Linked DNA regions of Homo sapiens. The protein of the gene in region 3 interacts with the protein of the main gene of each other region in a pairwise test. Each region holds a gene or a part of one and is shown on either strand. Other genes may lie near its edges.

Region 1 (7,844 bases), on a different chromosome or scaffold from region 3:
GCATTGAGAAGCTGGAGGATAGAGCCAGTGCTGGATGAGGGAACACCTGATTTTCATTCAAATGTCAACCAGCTGCACAAACCACTCAATGAAGCTGTTCTTGAATTATTAATCATCTTTCCCTGAATGAGAGAAAATGATTCTTTCTGGTTACTTGCTCTGCTTCAGGGACCAATTCAGAGAACTCCAAGCCAGACTCGAGTTTGAGGGAGCTCTCTGGTACCTGACACCCTCTGGCCAAGGCAAAAACAGAAAACAGCAAATGAAGTATTGCAGAAGAAAAGGGAGTAGTTGGCCTTCTAGAATCCAAGTAACTCCCCATATCCAAAGAAGCTGAGAAAGTTCCTTTAAAGCACATTAGCAGAGGTTTGCTGCACTGCTTGGGCATGATCTAATCTGTATTCCTTTCTATTCTAAATCAGGTAAGTTTCCTTTTCCCTTAAGAACTGTCAACAACTTCAAGCCTCAATTTTCTACTATAGATTAGACCCAGCCTTGCAGAGCAGAGAAGGGAGGGTTTAAAATCCCATTACTTCTAAATAGCGGAATTGTTTTAATCATCCCCCAAATATCTATGTTTGGATTCCCTGTCACCCCCAGATTCCTAAGTCTACTGATGCACGGATTTACACAATCTGAGAAATGGGGGAAAGCTTAGCGACTATCCAGGTCAATTTTCTCACTTTAGAGATGTGGAAGGAAGCCAGCAAGGGTCTTTCCTAAGGTTACATGATCGGAAGCCACCTTCCTCCCCGAGTTTCCCCTCTCCTCTCTGTCAGAGCCCTGTAGCAGGAGCTGCTCTAGCTGCTTAGTTCTATTTTAAGACAAACTCTCACTCTGCAAACCACTTATAGAAAACAAGGGCATCTCACCCACCCTGCAATTTTCTCCACGTCTTCATTTTGGGTCATCCCCACTGTATGAGAGTCTGTGATGCTCACCAGAACCATGCCTCCAAGAATTCGTCTCAGGGTCCTTCTCTGTCACCTAGACGCTGGGCAGGGCAAGGCTGTTAAAGGTGGGAAATTATGCACTGGGGTGCTCCTTCTAAACATTTGGCCTTGGCCATTCTTCCCACCAGCCCTCTGAGGGTGAGGATAGGGGGCTTAAACAACCTCAGAGAAGGAAGCCTTGAGAGTTGCATGCACTCGCTAAATGTTGCACAGTCTTTGAGAGGACCGGCGTACGCACTCCTGCGCGCTCTCTCAGTACTTCTCTTCCCCTATTCAGAAGCTTGCGCTCCTCTATTCCCACCCACACCTAAAGAACTGGGATCCACGGCTGCCCTCCACCTGGCGTAGCCCCGGGAAGGGTGACAGGAAGCTTGTGTGGGCTGGGGACGCTGGGGGCCTAGCGGAGGTTCGCCACCTGCAGGGGGTCTTCAGGAGTCGGACTTCAGACGCCAAGAGGGCAGATGGAGGACACCGTCGTCGCTCTCCACGGTCTCTCTTCGTGACTTTCCTCCATGGCCTTAATGATGCCTGCCCTTCCCAGTCTCCCTCGCCTCCTTGCTCTTCTCCTTCTCGCCTTTCCCCCACCGCCTTCCACTTCGACCCCCATCGCCTGGTCTCCTTCCTCTCCGTGGGCTCGGCTTCTCCCTACCTCTTACAAGGCGCTCCCGTCGTGTTTCCACTTTGTCTCCAATTATATCTAAATGCAACCCACCACAGATGCTGACATTTTAAATGTTTAGTTATTATAGCTACTTGACTAATTGCCGGGACCGACGGCGGCGCTTCTCCTTCGCCTCCCGCCGGCAGGAGAGGACGGGGCGGGAGAGGAAGGGGTTAGTTGTGGTTGTAGCCGCCACTCCCCGGCGCCCGGGACCCGGGACGCCCAGTCGGGCCCTGCAGAGGGTGTCCTACCTGGGCACCAGCGGCCCCTCGCCTCCAGCCAGGGCACCGAAGGCGCGCCCGGCGGGATGCAGCGAACTGCCTCCTGCCCCGGGACAGTGGAGCGGCAGAAGGTCCAACCTTCCGGTTCGCCCACGCCCGCAAGGTGGAAAAAGTGGGGTGAAATCGGGGAAATTTAGCGAAATTGGGGCGAAAGAAGAGAGACCAAAGCGTGTTACTCACGTGCCAGATGGCGAAGAAGATGAGCGCAGCGCACAGCACCAGAGACAGCATGTAGCAGAACGCAGCGAAAGTGAAGGCCATGGCCGGCGGACCCCAATCCCACCACACACGCCAAGAAGCCCCTAGGAGCCCGATGCCTCCCTAGAGGACCGCACTCCCTCCAAGGAGCCGCGTCTGCACGCTCCTCTCCAGGCTAGTGCCCAGGAGGGCGCACAGCTAGCGAAGCGACTCGAGGGTCAGCGAATAAGCGCTGGATTCCCGCAGGCTCCGGCGACCCCAGACCCGGCCCTCCGGCGAAGACAGGAAAACGTGTGTCGAGAGTCGCTGGAGGGAACCGTCCGCAAATCGAAGAAGAAACCAAATCAGCAGCGAACACCTGCAAATTAGTGCCAAGCTGTGAGCCCCTCGAGACCAACACGACAAGCGATGCGACGACTCCACGGAGGACCGAGGGAGGAGGTCCCATTCGCCCCAGGAAGAGCTCTCTGCTTTTCTCCACTAAACCGCTGAGGAGAGACGAGCGCTCCGCTCCGGACCCTCCCGCGCCACCGGGGCGCAAACGGATAGTGTCCAGCGAGGTGCCCGAGCGGCCTCCGAGCTCCTCCCAAATCCCAGAGCCGGGCAGCGCTCTTTCCCGAGAGAAGGAGTCTTTAGGTAGCCGGGAGGAGGTAGGTCCCGTTGGTCCTGCGCCCCAGACGCGGCTTCCAGCGCAGCCGTGCGCTCCGAGGCGCGCCCGTCCCCAACCGTGACTCCGGCCAGCCGGCCTCCGCAACCCAAGTGTCCCGGAAACCGGGGGTCGGACCGGGGCGAGCACTGGCTCCACCCAACGGGCCAACTCCAGCCCGGGTGGCTGCAGCAGTGGGTTTCAGGCCAAACGCTGTAGCTCGCTCCACCTGCTGCTGCCGCTGCCGCCGCCGCCGCCGCCGCCTTTGCCACTGCGAGAACTGTAGCGGTGCGACCCGGGATTCCCTCCTCTCGGCGCCCCACCCTCGACTCCTGTTCCGCTGAGCGCGCCCTCCCCGGCGGGCGGAGACTGCAGCGCCGGGGGCTGAGGAAAGGTGGGTGGCGAAGCGCCGCCGGGCGCTTGGTGGCCGCTGCCGCCGCCACTGCAGCTGTGCACGCCCGCCTCTCGGAGGAAACTTGAAGCCAGCAGTACAAGCAGGGCTGGAGGCCGAGCGGAGGTGGGGCGGGACCGGTTGGAGCAGGGACTCTTTAAACACGTGCGTCTGGAGGAGGTGGGAAGCTGCGGAAGGGTATGGTGTGTGCCTCGCGCCTAAACGCCGCAGCCGCCCCTCCCGGTTCTTGCAGTTTCGCCTATCGGAGTGGGAAGTGTGGGGACTTGGGGCGTTGCCTAGTGTTGGTTGGGGATACAGTGCAAGCCTTGGATCCCAAAGCTGCTTGGATGGATTTTACCAAACTGTAGCATACTCAGTGCTTAGGGCTGCGTTTACTGCTCTGCTCCCAGACCCTGCAAAATTCTCCATTAACGTCCTTCCGTTGCATCCTCTACCCTCCCCAGCCATCCGACCTTGGGACTAGGGAAACGTGGACTTGGTGGGCTATTCTGCGCTGAAGAGGCAGCAACGAGGGCTCGGTGGTATTGGTGTTGGTCCTAGTGGAATTGTCAAGAGGATGCTTTTGAAGGTAGACCGTTTTCTAGCTGCAAGTTACCTAACCTCTTTAATCCTTAGTTTCCTTATCAGAAAAACATAAATAAGAGTAGAGTCAAGCCATTTCAAAGGATTAAAAGGGAACATAAGTAAAAAACCTAGCACTTGGTATACGTTCAATAAGTGGTAGGGATTATTAATTGCACCCTTTCCCCCAGTGGCCCAGCATCTTGGAAGTTCACCATGCTTGCTTTGCAAGAGATTCCTGACGCTGCAGTGAAAGAGGTCCAGTCATTCCAGAGAGAACTTCAGTTTCAGACAAGTCATCAAATCCAGAAAGCAAGGAAAAATACCCTGAAAGACGACTGGCAAATCTCGGTGAAAGAGTAGACGCACTTCATGGATTGGAGTGAATCTTAGAGCACCTGGTACCTTGCACAGGGTGGGAACTAGATAAATAACTATTGCTTGATTCTGACTCTGGTGTGCTAGTTTTCCTGTTCACAGATGTGATTCCAATGCCTTGAGAGCTGGAAGGGATGAATTCCAGCAAGATAGAGATACAGCTTTCTAGTGACAGAACTGGAATCCTGTCTGCGGACTCCTAATCCTGGGCTCTTTCTACTATGCCCCAACATTCCTGCAGCTATTTGGCCACATCTTTTACTTATTTATTTATTTATTTATTTATTTATTTATTTATTTATTTGACGGAGTCTCACTTTGTCGCCAGGCTGGAGTGCAGTGGCGTGATCTCTGCAACCTCCACCTCCCTGGTTCAAGCGATTCTCCTGCCTTAGCCTCCCGAGTAGCTGGGACTACAGGCACGCACCACCACGCCCAGCTAATCTTTGTATTTTTAGTAAAGACGGGGTTTCACCATGTTGGCCAAGATGGTCTCGATCTCTTGACCTCGTGATCTACCCACCTCGGCCTCCCAAAGTGCTGGGATTACAGGCGTGAGCCACCGCTCCAGGCCCTTCAATTTATTTTATTTTATTTTTTTGAAGACAGTCTTGCTGTGTTGCCCAGGCTGGAGTGCAGTGGTGCTATCATAGCTCACTGTAGCCTCAAACTCCTTGCTAGGACTACAGGCATGCACCACCACACCCAGATAATTTTTGTTTTGTTTTGTTTGCAGACATAGGTCTCAATATATGGCCAGGCTGGTCCCAAACTCCTGGCCTCAAGCAGTCTTCCAGCCTTGGCCTCCCAAAGCGCTGGGATTATAGGTGTGCACCACAGTGCCTGGCCTCATATCTCCCTCCAGTTTAGAAACTAGATGCCTTTCAGTGAGAAGTGGAGAAATTAGAGCAAATCCAGAGGCTGATGACCAGAGCAATGAACCGATCTACATTTTATTGCCTCTGGGTCAGGACCGGCTACATACTTTGGAGGGCCAAGTGCAAAATGAAAATGTGGGACTTTGTATTAGGCCGTTCTTGCATTGCTATAAAGAAATACCTGGCCAGGCATGGTGGTTTATGCCTGTAATCCCAGTACTTGGGGAGGTCGAGGTGGGCAGATCACCTGAGCTTAGGTATTTGAGACCAGCCTGGACAACATGGCAGAAACCCCATCTCTACAAAAAATACAAAAATTAGCCGGGTGTGGTGGCATGCACCTGTAGTCCCAGCTTCTTGCAGGGCTAAGGTGAGAGTGTTGCTTGAGCCCAGGAGGTCAAGGGTGCAGTGAGCTGTGTTCATACCACTGCACTCCAGCCTAGGCAATAGAGCCAGACCCTGTCTCAAAAAAAAAAAACAAAAACCTGAGGCTGGGTACTTTATAAAGAAAACAGGTTCAATTGGCTCACCGTTCTGCAGGCTGTACAAGCACGGCACCAGCATTTGCTCGGCTTCGGGGGAGGCCTCAGGGTTGCTTTTATTCATGGTAGAAGGTGAAGCAGGAGCAGGCATGTCACATGGCAAAAGCAAGAGCAAGAGAGTGTTGTGGAGAAGTGCCACACACGTGTAAATAACCAGATCTTGTGAGAACACTCTCTTTATTGCGAGGACAGCACCAAGCCATGAGGGATCCACCCCCATGACCCAGACACCTCCCACCAGGCCCCACCTCCAACACTGGGGATGACATTTCAACATGAGATTTGGGCAGGGACAAATAACCCAAACTATATCAAGCTTCTTGATTAAAAATTAATAATTTCAAGACAGCAACAGCAGAACATTAAGCCAAGCATGAGGCCCTTCTGAGCACAAGACCCTGGACAGCTGTAGAAGTTGAATGCCTACAAATCTAGCCCTGCTCTGGGTTATACCCTATGTTGCTTTCTCTTTTACAGAAGTATTTCTTCCAGTATAAATTGTCATTAAAGAAAATTTGGAGGTCAGGCACTGTGGCTCATGCCTGTAATCTCAGCACTTTGGGAGGCTGAGGCGGGTGGATCACTTGAGGTCAGGAGTTCGCGATCATCTTGGGCAACATAATTAAGACCCGGTCTCTACAAAAATGAAAATAAAATTAGCCAGGCATGGTGGTGCACACCTGTAGTCTCAGCTACTCAGGAGGCTGAGGCCAGAGGATTGCTTGAGCCCAAGAGGTCAAGGCACAGTGAGCTGTGATCATGCCACTGCACCCCACCTCGGGTGACAAAGCGAGAGCCTGTCTCAAAAATATAAAATAATTTGGAAAATATAAAAATGAAAAAGATAAACACCACAGTTTGCTGCTCTCAGATACCACCAACACAATCCTGGTGTATTTCTTTCTAGCTGTTTTTTTGCTTTTTATTTTATATAGATCATTTCTTTTCATTGTAGTAATTGTACTGTATAAAATTTCGTGACACCAAAATTCTGAGTCCCTTTGGGACCTCTCTGATCTTTTGTTTCTGCTGGTTCTTGTTTACGGAGTCCTCGCTTCTTATCCATCTAGTAGATTTTTACTGTGCCAAACTTGTTTTGAAAAGTTTTCTTACAGTCATTTGAGGCCTAAAATTATGTTATCTTTCTCCAGGGAGGATTTTCAACTTCTTTTGCCAGGTATCTAGGGGAACCTAGTGCTCCAGGATTACCTTAATCCAAATTCAGCATTTGAGATTTTCCAGGATGACCAAGATAACTGTGGTCTGTGTGAGGGCTGCTTTATTTCTGGTTCAGCCTTACTCACATGGAGCTGTCCTTCTGGATCCCAAGTCAAAACACAGGGCTTATCAAGTCCCAACCCTTGATGGTCCTTGGACTCTGACTTTTGCCCCTAGCGCCACAGAGTACTAAAGGCATAGCTCAGTCTCCTCCTCAAGATTAAGAAATGCCCCTAAAAGCATACCTCAGCCACCTCCTCAAGATTAAGAAATGCCCCTAGAAAAAAAAACTGGCCCCAAGAGCTAAACCAACCCCTCTAGATTCTGAATCACTCTCAGCTTTTGACCCCAGTAATTCCGTACTCTCTTATTAGGTCTTTGATGCTTTCAAGAAGATGTTACTGTATTTCATTCAGCTTTATAAGTTGTGCTCAGTGGGAGAACCGGTCTGAATTCACTAGCACAGCATCACCAGAACCAAGAGTCTCTACATCAAAATAAAATTTCAAATTTAAAAATGGAATCCATTATCCTACCACTGTGACTTTCAAGTCTCCATCCAGCCACTGTTTTTCTTGCCATTTACCTGGTCCTGCTTTGCCTTGTTTTATTAGTTACAGAACAATATCTCGGCAAAGGTTACTGCAAAACTTCAGAAAATAAGAACCCCAGGCAGTTACTGCTCGTTATTTCAAAATATTTTAGTGTCCATAGTTCTGGGCGCTGTCAGGGATCCACAAGGTTTCTAGTCTAATTGGTGAGGCGGTAATTCCTTCACAAGGCAGTGTTTAAAAAAATCAAAAAGTACTAGTGACACAGTAGAGGAAGGCAAGGGAGATGGTGATTGGGAATGGATGTTGAGTGGAGTGACCAACCTACATTGTTTTCTCTACTGTAGACATTGAAAAGCCAATTACTTGATTTTTTTCCCCACCCACCATGCAGCCAGGAGAGGCCATATGACACAGTTTGAACTCTTTAGATAATATTTCTTTTTGCCTGAAATGCAGACCTGATGCCTGGAGGTACAGCAGCCATCTTGTGACCATAAGGAGGAAATCAACGCATTAAGAAGGGAAAAGCTAAGAAGATACAGAGAGCAGGGACCACTGACAA
Region 2 (7,024 bases), on a different chromosome or scaffold from region 3:
CTTTTTCTGTGTTCCCTTTTTCATGCTCAGTAATTGGAAATGAGCATACTGTATTTCTCCTTTATCATTGCCTGGGTTTCCACCTGTGCAGAGTTAGGTACCTACGGGGTCCCCATCTGGATTCCTGGGCCTCTTTCCATCATTCAATCTCTCCACACGGTGCCTCTGCCTCTGGGGTAGTGTTGCCATAACCAAAGACTGGGGGTTGGTGCTGCTAAGATCAGGCTCATGGTGGAATGAGGAGCAATCACTGCTACATGGGCATCAGAAGCCTTTACCTGGCTGTGGGCTCTTGAGCGAGTCATTCTCCCGCATGTTCTCTGGCCTTCAGTGCTCACTCCAGACCTCTCAGCTCATACTTTCTATGATCAATTGAATTTCAAGGATGGGCACCACAGCCCATGGCTCTCCTGTGTTAAGCTCACCTGGGCTTTCCCTCCCCAGAGAACTTGGCAAACAAGGCTGACAGGGACCAGTATGAGCTGCTTTGCCTGGACAACACCCGGAAGCCGGTAGATGAATACAAGGACTGCCACTTGGCCCAGGTCCCTTCTCATACCGTCGTGGCCCGAAGTATGGGCGGCAAGGAGGACTTGATCTGGGAGCTTCTCAACCAGGCCCAGGTATCCCCACCTGCCATCCTCCCCTCCAGCTTAGTGCTCCCTGCTTGGATTTGGGGGTTTTCCTCCTGGCCATCTTGTCACTCTGGAAGTCTGTGTGTTCAGGATACAGTGGGAGCCATGCCACATGTCACTAAGTTCTCTAAAAGCTGGGACTCCCCACAGAGCAGCAGGGAGCCTGCTGTGGTGCTACCGTCTGCCGCCCTTGCCTTTCTGGCTGGTGACACCTGAAGAGGCTCTGTATTGCTCTGTTGCATTCCTTTCTACCTAAACTTCAAGGCCCAAAGCTAAACCCCTCCCCAAGGAGGCTTTCCATGACCCTCCCAGAAGGAAATGGTCTCTCTCCCCATGCCCCTCAGCCCGGCTGTGAGGGGGCTGCCTGCACAGCGGCTTTACTTCCCAAGAGCTGTGTGATTTGGGCTCAGCCAGCTTCCTCTTGCCGAGCCGTCCCATCTGTCCACTGAGAGTTTGACTGGTAACCACACAGGGCAGCCTCTGGATTAGCCACGTTTCTTGTTCTCACCGATGTCTCAACCCGTTCCGGGAGACAGGCACAGAAGCAGGTTCAGGCAAATCGCGGACCCACGAGGGCTACAGGCAGAGGAAGTGCTGGGTGAGCAGGAGCAGGTCCGACTGCCCTCTCTCCTGGCATCTTGAACTTTTTCATGTTGTTTCCTGCAGAGATTTCTTTTCTCTTCAGTCCCATTTCTCAGCCTCCTTTCTTCTGTGTTGCCATCCACTATTCTGTTTTTCTATGAACAGGAACATTTTGGCAAAGACAAATCAAAAGAATTCCAACTATTCAGCTCTCCTCATGGGAAGGACCTGCTGTTTAAGGACTCTGCCCACGGGTTTTTAAAAGTCCCCCCCAGGATGGATGCCAAGATGTACCTGGGCTATGAGTATGTCACTGCCATCCGGAATCTACGGGAAGGCACATGTGAGTACCTGGGAAGAACCAGGTGACCACAAGCACTTGGGAAACCTGGTGAGCACAGGGGCCAGAGATTGAGTCTTTTCAGGGACCTGCACGCCTCTCCTGATGCTCCTTTTTCTGACCTGTCTGTGAGCCCAGTGTTAGACTGATGCTGAATGGCGTTAGTCATTATGAGATGGCCTTGATGTCACCATGGGCTTTACAGGAAATCCACATTTAAAATGACGTGGGTTGGTTCCAGTATTTCCTTTGCATCAATCAGGACTGCCTTACCTACTCTGTGAAGGCAATTAGCTTATCACAGAGTAAGTGAAATAGAACAAAATTGCTATATATTGCACATCTCCAGCCAGTCAACATGTACCATAATGAAGAGGTGCTCTAAGAGAGGTTGATCCCAGTCCTGGATTTCACTGAGTCACTGTGGTTTTGCTTGACCATTCATTTATTCAGCAGACATTTATTGAACATCTAGCCATATGCTCTGCTAGGTGCTGGACATAGGATGGCATGACAAATATATATTTGATTCTGTTGTCCTGGAAATTTCAAACTGGGGAGAAGATAAATGTTTAATGAATAGTCATGCTATTGGATGATGAATTACAAAGTAAGAGATATGTTTAAAAGGGGAAAAATATGACAACAAAATACCATGGCCCTATGAGACTGCAAAACAAAGAAAAATAGGCCCTGGACTTGGCGTTAAGGCAAAGCTTCCTTGAGGAAGTGACTCTTGAGCTCAGTCTGAAAGATGAGCAGATGTACATTTATTCATCAGACATTTATTATGCTGACCATGTGCTAGCATTGCCCTAACCCTGAGGATGCCCTGGTGAACAAGACAGGCAGGGCCCTTTCTGTGTTGGAGCTTCTGTTCTCCTGCAGAAAACCTGACAATAAACAATGAACATATAAATAAGAACACCTCCAGTAGTTAAGTGCTATCTGAAAAACAAGAAGGAAAAAAACAGCCAGAGGTCATATAGTGCCCAGAGGCTGGAGAGGAAAGTTGGCTTCTCGGAAGACATAAAAAACTAAATTTAAATGAGAAGTCAACCAAGAGATTGTGCATTGACTTTGCTTTCTAAGGTGATTAATTCCTTGAATGGGGTCTGTTTGTTTATTGCTGGCAAATCCCAGCATTTGCATGAAGACAGTGAGTAGTGCTGACAAACACCAGGCAACAGCTAGGGCCGCTTCTGATCTTTGTTCTTTTTTTATGCCATAGGCCCAGAAGCCCCAACAGATGAATGCAAGCCTGTGAAGTGGTGTGCGCTGAGCCACCACGAGAGGCTCAAGTGTGATGAGTGGAGTGTTAACAGTGTAGGGAAAATAGAGTGTGTATCAGCAGAGACCACCGAAGACTGCATCGCCAAGATCATGGTATGTCACTCCAGCCTTCCTAGGGCAGCGTCCCTGTCATTGCTGCCTGCTGGCCCCCAAGACTGAGCTAGGGAGTGTTCCTGGGAATGATGCAAAAACCTGGCTCCCAGGAACCTTGCCCTGACTATGTGAGCACAGCCCCACCGGAGGTTCAGAATCTTTGAGCTTGTGGATCTGAAGGGTGCCCACAGGGCTCAGTTTCCTCCTTGTATGAGTGTATGGTGAAAGGGCAGGCTGAGCAGTGCCTGCTTAGGGAGGCTGGACCATGGTGTGGGTGTCCTGAGACCAGTGGTGTGCCACGATCACTGAGATAAGATCCTGAGTACATGGTAGGATCCAATCAGGTACAAATTTGCTTTGTTGATCAAAAGAGTATCCTAGCCTGGCATGGTGGCATGCACCTGTAGTCCCAGCTACTTCGAAAGCTGAGGCAGGAGGATTGCTTGAGCCCAGGAGTTCAGGGCTAGCAACTTAGCAGGACCTTGTCTCTAACAACATTTTTTTTTTAAGAAAGAATATTCCATGTTGGCTTACAGAGAATTTTTAAAATCCTGAATGATATAAAGAAGAAATAAAAAGTACTTATAATCATGTAATTCAGAGAAAATTCCCTTATTGGGATCATTTCATGTAGGTTGCTTGCTACCTTTTACTCACTCACAGTATCTAGTAAGCTTTTCCCATATCATAAATCATTCTTGTAAAACCTAATCTGGAGCTTCTGTGTTAGTGCACACATCGAGATGGGGGAGTATGGTTTGCCTAGAGAGAACATGAAGTGCCAAGCTCCACTCCCCCTCCTCCCCACATTTCTTGCCCTCTGTGTCTCTTCCATTTGGCTATTCTTGAGTTGGATCCTTTATAATAAATCAGCAAATATATTGAAACAAAGATGCATATTATAAAGGTACTTCCTGCCATTGTCAACAGATTTTTGCTGAAATATGTTAATTCTACTTTTTGAGCACTTATGAATAACCATGTATCTTCAGAACTATCTACCATGAAGCAAAAAGGGACCATCAAGCTCATTATTTTATATTTCATACAATTTATAGATATCACTTTATGCTATTTTAACATATATTCCATTTTAATTTTTGTCTGAGTCAAGACAAGAAAAACCAAACTAAGTTAAAGCAAAGCCTACAAATTCAAAACCTGAGTCTATACAAATCTGTTAGCAGTTTGAGTGGCTGGGCTTCAATATTATACTCTGGATGTGATACAATAGATAAAGTTTTTTACGTCTGTAAAAAAAAGGAAGAGCAAAAGACTCTTGGGAACATGTGAAATCTTAAATGAAGATTAAGTACAACCAAATGTAAACATATTTTAAAAGGTTCTTCTTGGACATCATAATTTGCTCTCCTATGAAGATGTCATCGTTTGAGCCTTTAATGTTGGAAATAGCTTACAGATGTTGGGGCAGAAACCAAAGACCAACATTGCCATGTTCTGTGAGACCACGTCCAAGTGGATGATTGCTGGATAGGTATGTTTCATGCATAACATTTAGTTCATAAAATTATATGCTACTTTAGGAGGTCCAGGGCCCATGGATTAATGAAACAAAAGTAACTAATCTCATTGCTAGTAAAGAATTATTGGAAACAAAGTTGAAAGACATAGTTTATTTGGTCCCACACCTGTGACACATCATCACTGTCAATGGGAAGCCACTGACCTGTCCCAATTTCCCAAGGTTGTTATCATGGACATCATGGCTGCAGTAGAAAGTGAAGGTGAGTGTGGAAAACAGATCCCAAAGTGACCAGTGCCCTCGGTTATTGCAGTAATCATGTTCATGAGTAGACACACAGGACTTCCAAAGGGAGTCATCATCTCGCATAGAAACATCATTACTGGTATTACTGGGATGGCAGAAAGGATTCCCAGACTGGAGGAGGAAGATGACTACATTGGATATTTACCTGTGGCCCATGTTCTAGAATTAAGCTTTGAGCTTCTTTGTTTTTCTCATGGATGCCTGCTTGGCTCCTCTTCACCCCAGACTTCAGTGGATCAGTCTTTAAAAGTAAAAAATGGGCTGCCCACTGTGGCATGCAGCTGTAGTACCAGCTACTCAGGAGGCTAAGGTAGGAGGATTGCTTGAGCCCAGGAGTTTGAGTCCAGCCTGGGAAACATAGTGAGACACCATCTCAAAAAAATAAAAAATAAAAAAATAAAAACCAGAAGCAAAGGGTGTACTTCTGGGTTGAGACCAACACTGATGGCAGCTGTTCTGGAAATCATGGATCAGATCTACCAAAATGTCATGAATTAAGTGTATGAAATCAGTAGTCTTCAACACAATCTGTTTATTCTGGCTTATAATTATAAAATGGAACACATTTCAAAAGAGCATAGTACTGGATTGTGTGACAGCTTTGTTTTCTGGAAACTGTGAAGCTAGCTAGGTGGAAATATTCAGCTTTTATTGTATGAAAGTGCTCCACTTTCTGCAACACGCAGCAAGTTCATGAATACAGACTCACTGAACCTACAGGGGCTGGAACAATTACAGATGTGTGGATTACAAGACTGGCAGAAGTGAGAGTCCCATTAGTTTGCTGTGAAATTAAATTAAAGAACTGGGAGGAAGGTGGATACTTTAATACTGAAAAACCACATCCCAGAGGTAGAATTCTTATCGGTGGCTAAAATGTGACAATGGGATGCTACAGAAATGAAGCAGAAACAAAAGCTGATTTATTTGAAGATGGAAATGGACAGAAGTGATTATGTCCTAGAGATGCTGAAGAGTTTGATGGTTGTTTACAGATGATCGATCATAAAAAGGACCTTGTAAAACTACAGGCAGGAGACTATGTTTCCCTTGGGAAAGTAGAGCCAACTCTGAAGAATCTCCCAGTAATAGATGACGTTTGTGCATTTGCAAACAGTTAATTGTTCTTATGTCATTGGATTTGTTGTGCCAAATCAAAAGGAACTAACAGAACTAACTTGAAAGAAAGGACTTACAGGAACTTGAGAGTAGCTCTCTAACAGTTGTGAAACAGAAGATGAGGTGCAGTAGTCCCCCTTTATGTGAGGTTTCGCTTTCTTGGGTTATACCTACAGTCAACCGTGGTCCAAAAATGTTAAGATATTTTGAGAGAGAGAGAGAGCACATTAACATAACTTTTATTATAGTATGTTATAATTGTTTTATTATTGTTGTTGTTAATCTCTTACTGTGCCTAATTTATAAACTTTATCATAGGCTTGTATGTATAGGAAATAAACATTGTATAGGGTTTCAGGTTCCAAGACTGGGGGTCTTGGAACATATCCCTTGAGGATAAGAGGGGACTACCATACGTAAAGTACTTTCTGAAGCTGCTATTTGGGCGTGTCTGAAAAAGTTTGAAAATCTATTAAAAATTGGTTTGAGCCCTGACCCATGAATCCTGAAACTGGTCTGGTGACAGGTGCCTTCAAGCTAAAACACAAAGAATTTAATACACATTACCAGGCAGACTCTGAGCGAATGTGTGGAAGAAATGATTTTTCTCTTTTGGCATCAGTTTGCTACAGTGAGCTCAAATCAAATAGGAAATTATTTGAAATGCATGTTTCAAACTGTGAGGCAAACTCCATTCTTCATATTCAACCTAGATTTTTACTTCTTAAGACATCACCATTTTCAACAGACAGGATTAGTAAAATAGTAGGAGAGCAAACTTGTGTCTGTCTTTTTCCTTTTCCCCTCCTACAACTACCTTTACCTAACCTGTGACTGTATTGTCAGTATAAGGAGTTTTCTGAATCATAGTGAGGAAGCAGATTTCTAAAACCTCAAGTTTCTAAACATGACCTATATATTCAGTTTATGTTTAAAGTTTGGATGTGTAGAGGGAGTTATGGAAAATATATAAAGTGGCTGTTGGGGGGTGCTTTTTAACTTACAGTATTAAAAAAATGCAAGGCTATTGATGTGAAATTACATACATTTCAAATGCTTATGAATCAAATCATTATTGAGGATAATATTTGCTGATGTGTAATTACTATCTTGCATGAATTAAGAGAAATAAATATAGCCATACTTACGTTTTAAAGAAAAAAATGATATTTT
Region 3 (7,024 bases):
CTGGACGACAGAGCACGAATCTGTCTCAAAAATATAAAATAATAAAATAAAAGATATGTTGGCCAGCTTGGTCTTGAACTTCTGGCCTCAAGCAATCCTCCTACACCTCAGCTTCCCAAAGTGTTAGGATTACAAGCATGAGTCACCGTGCCCAGCCAATATTTTCAAAGTACTCAGAACAGTGCCTAGTACAGAATATACACAATATAGTGTTTATTATTAATATGATTTCTCAAGTGGAAGAAAACAGGTGTCACTCCAAACACTGCGATCGGCTTGGCAAGGTCCTTGGCTCATTCTTTAAACCTTCCTACCCCCTCTCTATTACAGGTTTTTGTACTTTAAAAAATGTTGGGGAGAGGCAGAAGGGGCATCTCACACACACACTGTCTCACACACACTCTCACACACATGTGCATGCATGCTGAGTACAGACAGAAGATGTGTCACGCCGTCCTGTGCATTCAGGACAGTGCCTAACACATCCCGGGTACTTACGGCAATGTTTCACGAAGAAATGAATGTCTAAAAATTTTCCATTGCCTGCAAGTCACGCCCTCATAAATTCTTTTATTTCAGCTTCTTTAGTCTCCCCAAAGGTTAGGAAGAAAAATGCGTGGCTCACAGTGCTTATAGATGGGTGTTTTTATCAAAACAAAAGGAATAAAATTGTCCAGTAACTGGGTGTTCTCTAGAATGTCAGAAGCCAACCGTGGTGCCAGCTAACCCGAGATTGTCCCTGTGTCTGAATGTCTTGGCCCTACCACAGTCTTGCAGTAGATTCTGCTCAGTTCTATAGCTGGAATCCTGGCTGCCTTTTTATTTTTATTTTTTGGCCAAAAGTCCTTTTGCCAAAATAAAGACTATAAAGAAGAGGGCCCTCGCAGAGACAGCTGCAGTCGGTCCAGTGATTGGACAGAATGGGGCCAGGTGTCAAGGGCATGGGTGTTTGGCCCTGCGAGGGGCTGTAGGTGGCCTCCTATCAGTCCCCACCACCTGGCTGCTGTCCCCTCTGCAGCCTCCCTCAGCAGCTGGAGGTGGGTGGGGCTTGTTTATCAGGAAGAACCGATGCCCTCCACAGCCATCCTGGCCGGGGGTGGCAGGACTAGTCAGAAGGCTTCAAGGAAACGGGAGGTCACATGTGCTGGCCAAAGAAAGGGGGGCTGATGACATCTTCCCTCCTCCCCTCCAGAGCCTGGACATTCTGGAAAAGTGTCTTCCTTTAAGAATGGTCATTCTGGCAGGACAGGAAAGGGGAGCCTGCTGAGTACCACAGAGGCTGAGGCCTGGTGGTCACCAGCCCAGTCACCAGTCCATGCTGCCAGTTAGCCGTCCCTCCCTCCTGAGCCTCAGTCATCCATCTGTCAAAACAGGAGCGACAAAGGTTCCTGGGTCATGAGGCAGTGAGGGATTTATGAAATGACGCCTTTGAAGTGGAAGCTCAACTCCTGGCTCAGCAGAAGGGACCTGTCATCGGGACACTGAGGGTTTTCCTCAAATGTTCTAAAAAATCTTATGCCTCTAAAAATAACAGGGTAAAAGTGGGCCAGCTGCAGAGCCCATAACAAGAGCTGACCTCCAGCCAGGTGCGCATCACCTGCCGGGACAAGCCCCAGGACTGTCCTTAGAGAAGTCTTTTGATTAAAGTGCTCTGTTATTGAGAAGTGGTTTTTTTCCCTCCCCTAATGTGGGTGAGGTTGGTATTTTTGTTTCTCCCACACATTCCAGGCTTGGTAGGTGCTCAGTAACTGTTAGCAGATGTCCCATGCAATCCATGATTTCTGTACAAGTCCTGGTAGGGCACTGTGCAAAAATCGCCCCCACTTTGTGTGTTTCAGATGTCAGGTGTAAATCTTGATTCTAGGAGTAAATCTGCCATCGCTTTTGCTGCATTAATTTTGTGCGCACCGTCCTTTTTTGATGGCATATAACATGGTTGTCACATGCTCAGGCTGTGGCCTTGGAGGGCCTGGGTTCTAATCTTGGTGACATCAGGCCAATGACCTCACCTCAGCAAGCCTGTGTTGCTCCTTTGCAAAGTGGGAAAAGCAGTAGTATCTACCTCTGAAGGTTGGCATGAGGATGGAAGGAGAAAGGGTTGGAGGACCACCTGGCTCAGAGAAAATGCTTGATAAAGGATCATTGTCCCCAAGCTTGTGAGCCCTGGTGTTTTAGTTACTATTGCTGCTGTAACAGATGAGCACATAACCTGGTGGTTTAAAACAATCCACATTTATTATCTTACACTTCTAGAGGTCAGAAGTCCAAAATGGGTCTTAATGCACTAAAGTCAAGGTCTCAGCAGAGATGGGTCCTTCTAGGGGCTCGAATCCATGTCCTGCCTTTTCCAGCTTAAAGCCGCTTGCATTCCTTGGCTCATGGCCCTTGCCTCCATAAGCCAGTAGCACCGCATCTTCAGCTCTCTCACTCTGCTTCTGTCCTCACAACCCCCTCCCCGACACTGAGTTTCCTGCCTCCCTCTCTTCACTTATAAGGACCCTTGTGATGACGTTGGTAATAATGTAGCCCAGGTAATCCGGGATCATCTCCCTATCTCAAGACCCTTAATCACATCTGCAAAGTTCTTCTGCCATGTAAGGTGACATATTCACAGATCCTGGGATTGGGACATCTTTGGAGTCATCATTCTGCCAGCCATACCTAGTTCCAGGCTTGCATTGCACTTAGTGACTAAGTTGGCTCAAACTCGGCTCACTGAGTAGGAAAGGGGTAACTGATCCACGCCTGTAATCCTAGCACTTTGGGAGGCCAAGGCGGGTGGATCACCAGGTCAGGAGATCAAGACCAACCTGGCTAACACAGTGAAACCCCATCTCTACTAAAAATACAAAAAATTAGCTGGGTGTGGTGGCACACACCTGTAATCCCAGCTACTTGAGAGGCTGAGGCAAAAGAATCCTTTGAACCAGGGAGGTGGAGGTTGCAATGAGCCACAATCATGCCACTGCACTCCAGCCTGGATGACAGAGTGAGACTCTGTCTCAAAAGAAAAAGGAAAGGGGTAACTGATCTCTCATCCAGCAGGAAAGAGTATAACATTGCATGCGTGTATAAAAGCCGGTAATGACTGCCCGTGCCTGCCCTAAAGCACCTCCTCTTCTCTGATTTGTACACAGGACCCCAGCCAGGCCACGGGGACAACAGGCAGCAGCGTCAGCTGCACAGAGGAGAAAAAGCAAAGCAAGTCACAGCAACTGAAAAAGATTTTTCAAGAGTATGGCACTGTTGGCGTGTCATTGCACATTGGAATCTCATTAATTTCCTTGGGCATATTTTACATGGTTGTGTCAAGGTAAGATTTTTGACAGTAATTAATATTTGTTTTTTACTGTCATGTAAGATTCTATGTGAATAAGAACGTGTTTGCTAAGACTTTTTTTTTAAGACAGGGTCTCACTCCACTGCCCAGGCTGGAGTGCAGTGGCATGATCACAGCTCACTGCAGTCTCGACCTCCCTGGGCTCAAGTGATCCTCCCACCTCAGCCTCCCAAGTAGCTGACACTACAGGCATGCACCACTGCACCCAGCTGATTTGTTTGTTTGTTTGTTTTGGGGGACGGACTCTCGCTCTGTTGCCAGACTGGAGTGCAGTGGCGTGATCTCGGCTCACTGCAAGCTCTGCCTCCCGGGTTCAAGTGGTTCTCCTGCCTCAGCCTCCCGAGTAGCTGGGACTACAGTCGCATGCCACCAAGCCTGGCTAATTTTTGTCTTTTTAGTAGAGCCAGGGTTTCACCCTGTTGGCCAGGATGGTCTCAATCTCTTGACCTAGTGATCCGCCCCCTCGGCCTCCCAAAGTGCTGAGATTACAGGTGTGAGCCCCCGCGTCAGGCCGATTGTATGTTTTTTTGTTGTGTTGAGACAAGAGTCTTGCTATGCTGCCCAGGCTGGTCTTGAACTCCTGAGCTCAAGCGATCCTCCCACCTCGGCCTCCCAAAGTGCTAGGATTACAGGCGTGAGCCACTGCACCTGGCCACTAAGACTTTTATTCATTCAGCTACTTCATTACATTTTTTAAAATACTGTAAATCTTATAGCCAAATCAATTTCTTCATTTAATCCCTTGCTGTAATAATTGTTTTCTTTGCTTCTTCCCCCCTAGTGGTGTGGACATGCCTGCAATCCTGCTGAAACTCGGATTTAAAGAGTCCCTGGTACAGTCAAAAATGGCAGCAGGCACAAGTACCTTCGTGGTGGCCTATGCAATCCACAAGCTGTTTGCGCCAGTGAGAATCAGCATTACGCTAGTCTCTGTGCCCTTGATTGTCAGATATTTTCGAAAAGTGGGATTTTTTAAACCTCCAGCTGCAAAACCTTAATGAACTCTTCAGTCGTACACACTGAAAACCTATTTCTTCTAAATTACATGATTTGGATTGGTTTTAGGGTTTTAGGGTTGTAGGGTTTCTTTTGGAGAGGTAGGGGGCTAATTGCTATGTTCTCATGGATAAACTTTGCCAGCAAAAATCAGGCTTTTGAACAATTTTAATTTTTTGCCTCATAAATTTTGTGAATGCTATTCATTATAGGGCTTGTATATATAATCTAAAATGTCAGCAAGGCATCGGAGATGGGTTAACATCTCAAAACAAAATAGCCTACAAATGTTCCTTGTGGGAGACTTTGGCGAGGGTCTGTGGGTAAAAGCACCAGGGGGTTAATCTTGGCTCAGTTTCCTAAAAAGCATTGATTAATTTAACTGGCTTTTAAATATCCCCTTCCGCTGATATTTGTTGTCAGCTGCCTACAGTTTAATATGCAGCGTTCACAAAACAGCTGCCAGTGCTACAATTAATGAAGCAAAACTTAATATGTAATCACAATCTAAATTAGCATCAATACTTTGACATTCATTACATTGGTTTGGGGGAAGAAAAGTAGTTCTGGTATGTTTCATTGATCCCCAGATACCTTCCAATCTGGACATGATGGGGCTGATTCCAGATGGTTTTTCTGAAATTTCATTAAGGTAGGTCAGCGTCATTTGTCTCTGTTTAGGTAAAATATAAAAACCCTGCCCAGTAGCAGTGGCATCGCTTGGTTCCTGATGCCCATGTTCCAGAGGAATTCGGATACCACAAACAGCTAAGACAATCTCAGCTTTTCTTAGACAATCTTCTATCTCAAACTTCAGACATTCCAGAATTGTCATGATGTTTACACTGTCTGAGTTAAAAATCCTGTTCAAGAAAAAAAAAGATTTTGTATCACTTCTTAAAAAGGAATATTCATAGCACTTGTCACAAATAGAAGGCAACCATGAGATAATACAAGCCAGGGAGAGGCTTGTATTACATGACAGGTGTAATTAGTCTGCTGAGCCAGCTTTACCCAATGAAGGGCATATGTGTTAGAGAGATTAGCTAAGAGTAGAAATTCGAGCATAGAGGCCAGGTGCGGTGGCTCACGCCTGTAATCCCAGCACTTTGGGAGGTTGAGGCAGGCGTGTCACTTGAGGCCAGGAGTTCGAGACCAGCCTGGCCAACATGATGAAACCCCGTCTCTACTACAAATACAAAAATTAGCCGGGTGTGGTGGCACACGCCTGTAGTCCCAGCTACTGGGGAGGCTGAGGCAGCATTGCTTGAACCCAGGAGGTGGAGGTTGCAGTGAGCCAAGATCACACCACTGCACTCCAGCCTGGGCGACAGAGGGAGACACTGTCTCCAAAAGAAAGAAATCCCAGCGTAGATCCAAACTGAGACACTGAGGCTTCGTCCTTATAGTAGTCAGGAGCAGGCGATTGAAGTAATTCTGTCCTGCGGGGTTCAGCATCATGCACGTTCCCCCTGGGCCATTCTCTGATGCAGGGCACTTGCTCCACACTCTGGGAACCCAGATTCACCAGTCTGCCCTGTCACGTAGTTGAAGGAGTTGCATTTATCTTTCTGGCTCCTAATTCCTTTAAAATTACATTTGTTGCAGAACCTCCACAAGGCTAAATAAAATTACATTTGTGACCATCAGAGAACTGAATAAACCATTAACTGGCCATCCTGGTTTTGCAGAGATCAGGTTGTTGACAGTTCCTGGTTGACCCACAGCTACCCATGTCAGTTATCTCCACTAACATATCCAAGAATCTTTGTAGGACAATTTCTCCACCTGCAAGGTCTTTCAGGTAGAACTCTTCTTTTAAGGCAATTAGCCCATTGCCAAAAGGTTTTACTGTCTTAAAGCTGTCTTTCTGAGATCTAATTCCAAGGACTTCTCCACAGCTAAGTGAGATGCCTCACACCATTAGGTGATGCTTTGGACAGAACAGAGTATTTTCATCTTGTGTTTAAAGCAATTCCTTGGCTTCGGCTCCTCACCACTTTCTATGCCAGTCTCCCATTTATGTCCCTAGTAATGCCTATGCAAAAAAAAAAAAAGAAAAAAAAGAAAAACTGATGGTGAAACCTACAGGTTTAAGGGCTTAAATCTCAAACTTTGTTAGGAGTAACAGGAGCGTGCTGAGCGGGCAAGCAATAAAACAAATCATACCAAAAAGCCACATTGCTCTCTCCTAAGCCCCAACCCCACTCCACTCCTGTGGCCAGGGGTCCAAACAGAAAATAACCGGAGAAGACAAGGAGGTCAAAGGATCAGGGAACTAAGCATTATGTGAATTCACCAGCAAGATGTACAGAACGCCTGTGTTTACATTGTTTTTATGGAACTAGCAGAATAAAACATCTATTTTAAAAATGAAAGCCATTGTTTCTCTAATTTATCTGACAAAGTGAGCAGCTTAAATTCTGTGAAACATCTTTATAGTTTATGAACTTTTTTATATTCCTTCTGGTAAGCCATGGTTGTTGCTGATGATGAAGTGGCACTGTGACCAGTGTATTAATGTGCTACTACAATGAGCTTTTTCTTTGCTTGTGTGGGATTGTCTGGGGAAACGTCCCAAGTCTCACTGGTGTCACTGGGAAAGTCAGTCACGTGATAATAACTATAGCTTGGGAGGGTGGCACATGAACTATTTGGGAAGGTCAAAGTCAGTTCAGCTCAAGACTA
Region 4 (6,893 bases), on a different chromosome or scaffold from region 3:
GCGTGAGCCTCCATGCCCTGCCAGCTGGGGCTCTTTCACTAGGTAAGTGGCTTATCTGGTTTGCTTTTCCTGCCAGTTCTCTCTCACCAAAAAGCAAGACTTCTGCTTTCATCTCTTGGTGAAGAAAAAAGAGAGGGAGGCAGAATTTTGCCGTTAATCATCCTGCACTGTTGTTTCCAGCAGTAATTCCCCTGAATTAGCTGTCAGACATCTCCTTAGGAATTTTAACACACACCACAGGCTCCTTCTCACTACAGAGCCTTCAGGTGGCCGGTTCTCCTCTGCTGAAATGCCTTCATCCTTCCTCTTCATGAGCCCACATCCATCCCAGTCTGCAGACATCTTCCACGTCACGTTCCTACCTGACCCCACTCCGCCCCACGAGGACTCTGATTCAACCATGCTGACCAACAGTGTATGATGTGCCAGTCATTGCTTTTAGGGTCTTCTAGACCCTAAAAGAGGTATTTTTGGAATGAGGTATTTTTATTCCCATTTTATTTTTTGAGAAGGAGTCTTGCTGTGTCTCTCAGCCTGGAGTGCAGTGGCACAATCTCAGCTCACTGCACCCTCTGCCTCCCGGGTTCAAGCGATTCTCCTGCCTCAGCCTACTGAGTAGCTGGGATTACAGGTGCCTGCCACCACACCCGGCTAATTTTCGTATTTTCAGTAGAGATGGGGTTTCACCACATTGGTTAGGCTGGTCTCGAACTCTTGACCTCAAATGATACGCCCGCCTCAGCCTCCCAAAGTGCTGAGATTAGACGTGTGAGCCACCGTGCCCAGCCTTTATTCCCATTTTAGAGCTGGTACAACCCAGGCTCAGGAAAGTTGAGAACTCCAGCTTCTTGGCCCTCCAGGCTTTGTGCTCTTTTCTTTTCCCCACAGCTCATGGTATCTTTTTCCTTGCCAACCTCCTTCCCTTTATGAAACTTCTCGTATTTCTGTGTACGATGCAGAAGAACTGCAAGAGTTTTAGTTCCAGGATGAGGTAAGCCTCATGGAATAGTTTGTGGAGGGTTGGAAATTAAATAATTTCCAATAATAATTTCGAATAATTTGGCCAGGCTCGGTGGCTCACGCCTGTAATCCCAGCACTTTGGGAGGCCAAGGCAGGCAGATCATGAGGGCAGGAGTTCACGACCAGCCTGGCCAACATGGAGAAACCCCGTCTCTATTAAAAATACAAAAAATTAGCCATGCGTGGTGGCACGTGCCTGTAATCCCAGCTACTCGGGAGGCTGAGGCAGGAGAATCGCTTGAACCCAGGTGGAGGTTGCATTGAGCCGAGATGGCGCCACTGCACTCCAGCCTGGGTGACAGAGTAAGACTGTTTAAAAATAAATAAATAAATAGTAAAAGTGTTAATAAGTGGACTTTAATTGCAGTGTCTATTAATACTAATAACAGCATAAAAATAAAAATATAATTGATAGCCTCTTTAGTGTCACGTTTATGGTTTTATTTTAGTGAATATAAATTTTTGAGATTTGAATTTTCATGTCCAAATGGTCCTGGCCTCTAAATGTCTCCTAAACATATTTTTCTTTCTTTTCTTTTCTTTCTTTCTTTCTTTTTTTTTTTTTTTTTTGAGACAGAGTCTTGCTCTGCTGCCCAGGCTGAAGGGCAGTGGTGTGATCTCAGCTCACTGCAGCCACCCCCCTCCCGGGTTCAAACGATTCTCCTGCCTCAGCCTCTGGAGTAGCTGGGACTACAGGTGTGCGCCACCACGCCAGACTAAATTTTGTATTTTTAGTTGTGATGGGGTTTTATCATGCTGGCCAGGCTGGTCTTGAACTCCTGACCTCAGAAGATCCACCTGCCTCAGTCTCCCAAAGTGTTGGGATTACAGGGATTAGCCATCGCATCTGGCCACCTAAACCTATGTCCTCCATGAGGCTATAAGATTTTCACCTGCAAATACCAGCATTGTTTGTTTCTTTTTAAAAGATACTTCAGTCAAGGAAAGGCAGAAAGCCAGGCATGTTAGCTCATGCCTATAATCCCAGCACTTTGGGAGACCGGAGGCAGGAGGATTGTTTGAGCCCAGGAGTTCAAGACTAGTCTGGGCTACATAGCAAACCCTGCGTCAAATTAAAAATAAAAAATAAATAGGCTGGGCATGGTGGCTCATGCCTGTTATCCCAACATTTTAGGAGGCCAAGGTGGGCAGATCACCTGAGGTCAGGAATTCGAGACAAGCCTGGCCAACATGATAAAATCCCGTCACTCCTCAAAATACAAAAATTAGCCTGGCATGGTGGCACACACCTGTAGTCCCAGCTACTTGGGAGGCTGAGGCAGGAGAATCGCTTGAATCCGGAGGCAGAGGTTGCAGTGAGCCCGAGATCATGCCACTGTACTCCAGCCAGGGTGACAGAGCAAGACACTGTCTTAAAAGTAAAAATAATAAAAATAAATAAAATTAATAATTAAAGAAATAAAGAAGGAACACCACAGGGGAGCAGGCCTGGTGTCTGAATGTTAAGGTAGGCCCTCTGTGGATGTGCATCCTTAACCTTTTCCTGATTAGATCATTAAAGGTGCAGCAATGCTCCTGCTCATATGACTTTTTTTTTTTTTTGAGATGGAATCTTGCTCTGTCGCCCAGGTTGGAGTGCAATGGCGCGATCTTGGCTCACTGCAACCTCCGCCTCTTGGGTTCAAGCGATTCTTCTGCCTCAGCCTCCTGAGTAGCTGGGATTACAGGCGCGTGCCACTATGCCTGGCTAATTTTTTTTGAAATTTTTTTAGTAGAGATGGGGTTTCACCATATTGGTCAGGCTGGTCTCGAACTCCAGACCTCGTGATCCGCTCACCTCGGCCTCCCAAAGTGTTAGGATTGCAGGCGTGAGCCACCGCGCCTGGCAACTCATATGACTTTTAAACACTTCTCTTTGGGGAGAGAGATTTTAGAGAATGGGAGTAAAGAGAAAGGCGGTGAGAATCCCAAGTACTTTCTCTATCTTAGAGCAGAAGAAATAAAGGGAAGAGTAAAAGCCCAAGGCCCAGAAACGGATTTGCTTCTTAAAGGGCTGTTCTGTGTCCCTACGGGCCTGAAGGTCAGTTTATGTGCAATGCTTTTTAAGGTATGGGTTGCTTTCTTGCATTGTAGCTACTACCTCCCTGGCCTGCTGGTTACTGACCAGAGGGAGGGAGAGGGTGTGATTGTTTGGAAAGAGTTTAAACAGTGACAAGAATTGAATTTTATTTATTTGTTATTCATTGCACAATCCAATAACAGCGATGGCAATGAAAACGAAAGTTAATCTACAATCCTATCACCCTATTAAGTCACTTGTTTCTATTTTCCCTTTTATTCCCTCATGCATTAAACATTACGCAAAGCACTCCGCTAGTCTTGGTTAAAGTGCAGCTTGTATACATTCTGAATAAAAATTTGCATTTTGCTTTTCTTTTCCTTTTTGTATTTCTGAGGCTGCAAAATACATCTTCACAAGAGTGGCTTTAATAGTTACCTAACATTCCATCCTGCACGTACATTTCAAGGCACTGCCGCAGTGCAATATCCAACATTTAAGCGTCAACGCCAACAGATTGGACCTAGCACTGCAGGGACTGGAGGTTGGTCAAGGTCAGGCGGAGGCTGCCAGGCTACCAGGGTGGAGGAAGGCGCCGAGGCAGAGGCCAGTGCGCCCATCGCGCGGCTCCTCGGGGCACCTGCTGCCTTGGCGCCTTTTCCCTTGGCCTTCGCCTCGCCCGCAGCGCCCTCCGCATAGGGCCCCGCCCGCTGCGCGCGCATCCCCGCCCCCCGGGCGATCTGTCAGAGCACCTCGCGAGCGTACGTGCCTCAGGAAGTGACGCACAGCCCCCCTGGGGGCCGGGGGCGGGGCCAGGCTATAAACCGCCGGTTAGGGGCCGCCATCCCCTCAGAGCGTCGGGATATCGGGTGGCGGCTCGGGACGGAGGACGCGCTAGTGTGAGTGCGGGCTTCTAGAACTACACCGACCCTCGTGTCCTCCCTTCATCCTGCGGGGCTGGCTGGAGCGGCCGCTCCGGTGCTGTCCAGCAGCCATAGGGAGCCGCACGGGGAGCGGGAAAGCGGTCGCGGCCCCAGGCGGGGCGGCCGGGATGGAGCGGGGCCGCGAGCCTGTGGGGAAGGGGCTGTGGCGGCGCCTCGAGCGGCTGCAGGTACACGGGGTCGGCGGCTGTGCGCAGAGGCGTCCCTGCGCCTCTCGTCCCTTCGCCTCTCGTCCCTTCCCTTCTCTCTGCCTTCTTGCCCGCCTCCTCGGTCACAGAGCGACGAATGACGAGACCAGGTGTACCCCCACTGTCGCTCTCAGCCCCGGGGACTTCGGGTCCTCGCCCTTGAAGGCCGCAGGCCCTAGTGCGCCGGCTCCGGGCTGCGGGTCCGGGAGCGCGGGCGCAGCCAAGGTGCAGCTGCGCGGCGTGCGGCGCCGGGGGAACACGTGGCTGCTCCAGGAAGTCGCCCCAGGGAACGGCTGGGATTCGTGGGTGACCTTGGGCTCCTAAACCTTCGGTTCCCCGGGCTCCGGGCGGGCCCCGTTCTCACTGCGGAAAGGGACAAAGCTGTCCCCGATTCGGTTACTAGCGTGTTACAGGCATTAATTAGATACGGGTTTCTGTAAACTTACCCTTCGGCTCTGGTACAACCTGATCTTGCCATGCTCTGCCTGTTCGCCTTGTGTGTGGATTCTGTTTTCTCAAGGCAGAATCCGACTGAACGCCGCAGGTGTTCACATTAAGAATATTGCTAGCAGTTCTCACTACAAGACGGGAGCCATAGGAGTGACTTATTTGTGAAAGATACTTGGAGATTAGCGGTGTGGTCAGAGGGCTGTGCTGGATTGATGGGCGCCGGAGAGGCCGATTGTGTCACATTCTGCTGGACAGTTCTTTTAAGGTTGGGAGGGTGGGTAAGAAAATACATTCTGATTCGGCTCTTTTCGGATAACGCTTTCCCTCTGCTTACTGCTTGTAGAGACCTCACTTACCCGGGGGACTGGATTCTGCAGCTTTTTCCATTTTCTTCCCCGTTGATAAGAGGATTAAAGTAGGAAATTGTATTTGGCTACCCCATGCTTATATGCTAAGCTTACTGTGAAAATTAAGGTTAGGCTGTCTAGAGTACTTGTGGACCCTGCTGGTTCCCCCCGCCCCCCGGCCCTGAATTTTGGGTTACAATATGCTTCTCAAGAAAACTCAGAGTTAAGATAATTTTTGTCATCGATTTTGCAAGGTTATATATAGCATAGCATCCTTCAATTTCCTTTGGATGTTCTTATCAAGTAATGGTGGCTGTAAACCTAGCCTGTGTTGAAGATTGTTAGATAGACAGCAGTTTGGCTAACTCCGCCCTAAGGCGAGGCAGTTACTTGCCTCTGATAATGTATTTAAATGTCATGGAGCAAGATTCCCAGCTAAACCTGAATCGATCACAATGCTAGTTAAAAATGACCCTCGGCTGGGCGCATTGGCTCCCGCCTGTAATCCCAGCACTTTGGGAGGCCAAGGCAGGCGGATCACCTAAGGTCAGGAGTTCGAGTCCAGTCTGACTAACATGGTGAAATCCTGTCTCTACTAAAAACACAAAAATTAGCCGGGCATGGTGGCTCACGTCTGTAATTCCAGCACTTTGGGAGGCCGAGGCAGGTGGATCACTTGTGGTGAGGAGTTCGAGACTAGCCTGGCCAACATGGTGAAACCCCGTCTCTACGAAAAATACAAAAATTAGCTGGGCATGGTGGTGCACACCTGTAATCCCAGCCACTCAGGAGGCTGAGGCTCGAGAGTCGCTTTAACCTGGGAGGCAGAGGTTGTAGTGAGCTGAGATCGTGCTACTGCACTCCAGCCTGCGCGACAGCGAGATGCCATCTCAAAAACAACAACAAAAAAACTCCCTACTAAACCAGAAGAGTGATGGGGACGGGAAAAGATTCCTGGTCCAATGTTTTCATTATATTTTTCATATCATTTGGAATCTCATGCATCAGGCATGCCCCAGTACTGTTAAAGACAATATTTTTACTCATTATCAGGTAGTTCAATACCAGTTATTACAGGATAGGGAAGTCAGTCAGAGAAGGCTTCATAGAGATGAAGCCTTGAGCTGAGCCTGGAAGAAATGAGGAGGACCTCAAGGAACAGAGAAGAATGTTGGTGGGTAAAAACAGGGGCTGGATTCTGTCTGATTTTGGAGAAAATAGAGGGTAGTGAAGTTGTTAGGCAGTGAATGTGTTCCATTTCATGGTTCAAAACGTGGGGCTACGTTTTGCCTACCTGAGCTTCATTATTAATGTGAGAAATTGAATTGTTGTTTTCAGTCACCATTGAGAACACCAAAGATAACACAAGTAGCTTAGATTATTATTTATTTATTTATTTTTGACAGAGTTTCACGCTTGTTGCCCAGGCTGTAGTGCAATGGTGTGATCTCGGCTCCCTGCAACCTCCACCTCCCCCAGGTTCAAGTGATTCTCCTGCCTCAGCCTCCCCAGTAGCTGGGATTACAGGCATGCGCCACCATGCCCGGCTAATTTTGTATTTTTTTGGTAGAGATGGGATTTCTCCATGTTTGGTCAGGCTAGTCTCAAACTCTCAACCTCAGGTGATCTGCTCGCCTCGGCCTCCCAAAGTGTTGCTGGGATTACAGGCGTGAGCCACCATGCCCGGCCATCGCTTTGTGTTCTTAAAATTAATTTAAAACAAGAAAACTTGAGGAATGATGGTTCAGATGAGTGTTAAAACTTGCAAGATGTTTTTTCCTAGAAAAGGATGATTAAAATTGGTTCAGGGTGGGGCCTTCCAGTTCTGGCTCTAATGATTGGGTCCTTACTGTTCTGGTGGAGTGGTAGTGATAAGCTTTTTGTAACAGAAGGGGCAAAAGATTGTGCTTCTGGCTGGGCGCAGTG

The links.
Region 1: the proteins of FAM210B (region 3) and CNIH3 interact in binary tests that used the Homo sapiens proteins (3 or more experiments, as listed by UniProt).
Region 2: the proteins of FAM210B (region 3) and TF interact in binary tests that used the Homo sapiens proteins (3 or more experiments, as listed by UniProt).
Region 4: the proteins of FAM210B (region 3) and TFRC interact in binary tests that used the Homo sapiens proteins (3 or more experiments, as listed by UniProt).

What each region holds. Positions count from the first base shown.
Region 1 is NC_000001.11:224,611,487-224,619,330, reverse strand, and holds the start of CNIH3 (protein cornichon homolog 3), read right to left. Parts: upstream 3,015-7,844; 5' UTR 2,157-3,014; coding exon 2,076-2,156; intron 1-2,075. UniProt on the Homo sapiens protein: Regulates the trafficking and gating properties of AMPA-selective glutamate receptors (AMPARs).
Region 2 is NC_000003.12:133,756,387-133,763,410, forward strand, and holds part of TF (serotransferrin isoform 1 precursor), read left to right. Parts: intron 1-444; coding exon 445-623; intron 624-1,382; coding exon 1,383-1,560; intron 1,561-2,788; coding exon 2,789-2,943; intron 2,944-7,024. UniProt on the Homo sapiens protein: Transferrins are iron binding transport proteins which can bind two Fe(3+) ions in association with the binding of an anion, usually bicarbonate.
Region 3 is NC_000020.11:56,361,950-56,368,973, forward strand, and holds the end of FAM210B (protein FAM210B, mitochondrial), read left to right. Parts: intron 1-3,137; coding exon 3,138-3,313; intron 3,314-4,121; coding exon 4,122-4,338; 3' UTR 4,339-6,714; downstream 6,715-7,024. UniProt on the Homo sapiens protein: Plays a role in erythroid differentiation. Involved in cell proliferation and tumor cell growth suppression. Involved in the metabolic reprogramming of cancer cells in a PDK4-dependent manner.
Region 4 is NC_000003.12:196,079,090-196,085,982, reverse strand, and holds the start of TFRC (transferrin receptor protein 1), read left to right. Parts: upstream 1-3,892; 5' UTR 3,893-3,940; exon of another isoform or gene 3,941-4,152; intron 4,153-6,893. UniProt on the Homo sapiens protein: Cellular uptake of iron occurs via receptor-mediated endocytosis of ligand-occupied transferrin receptor into specialized endosomes. Endosomal acidification leads to iron release.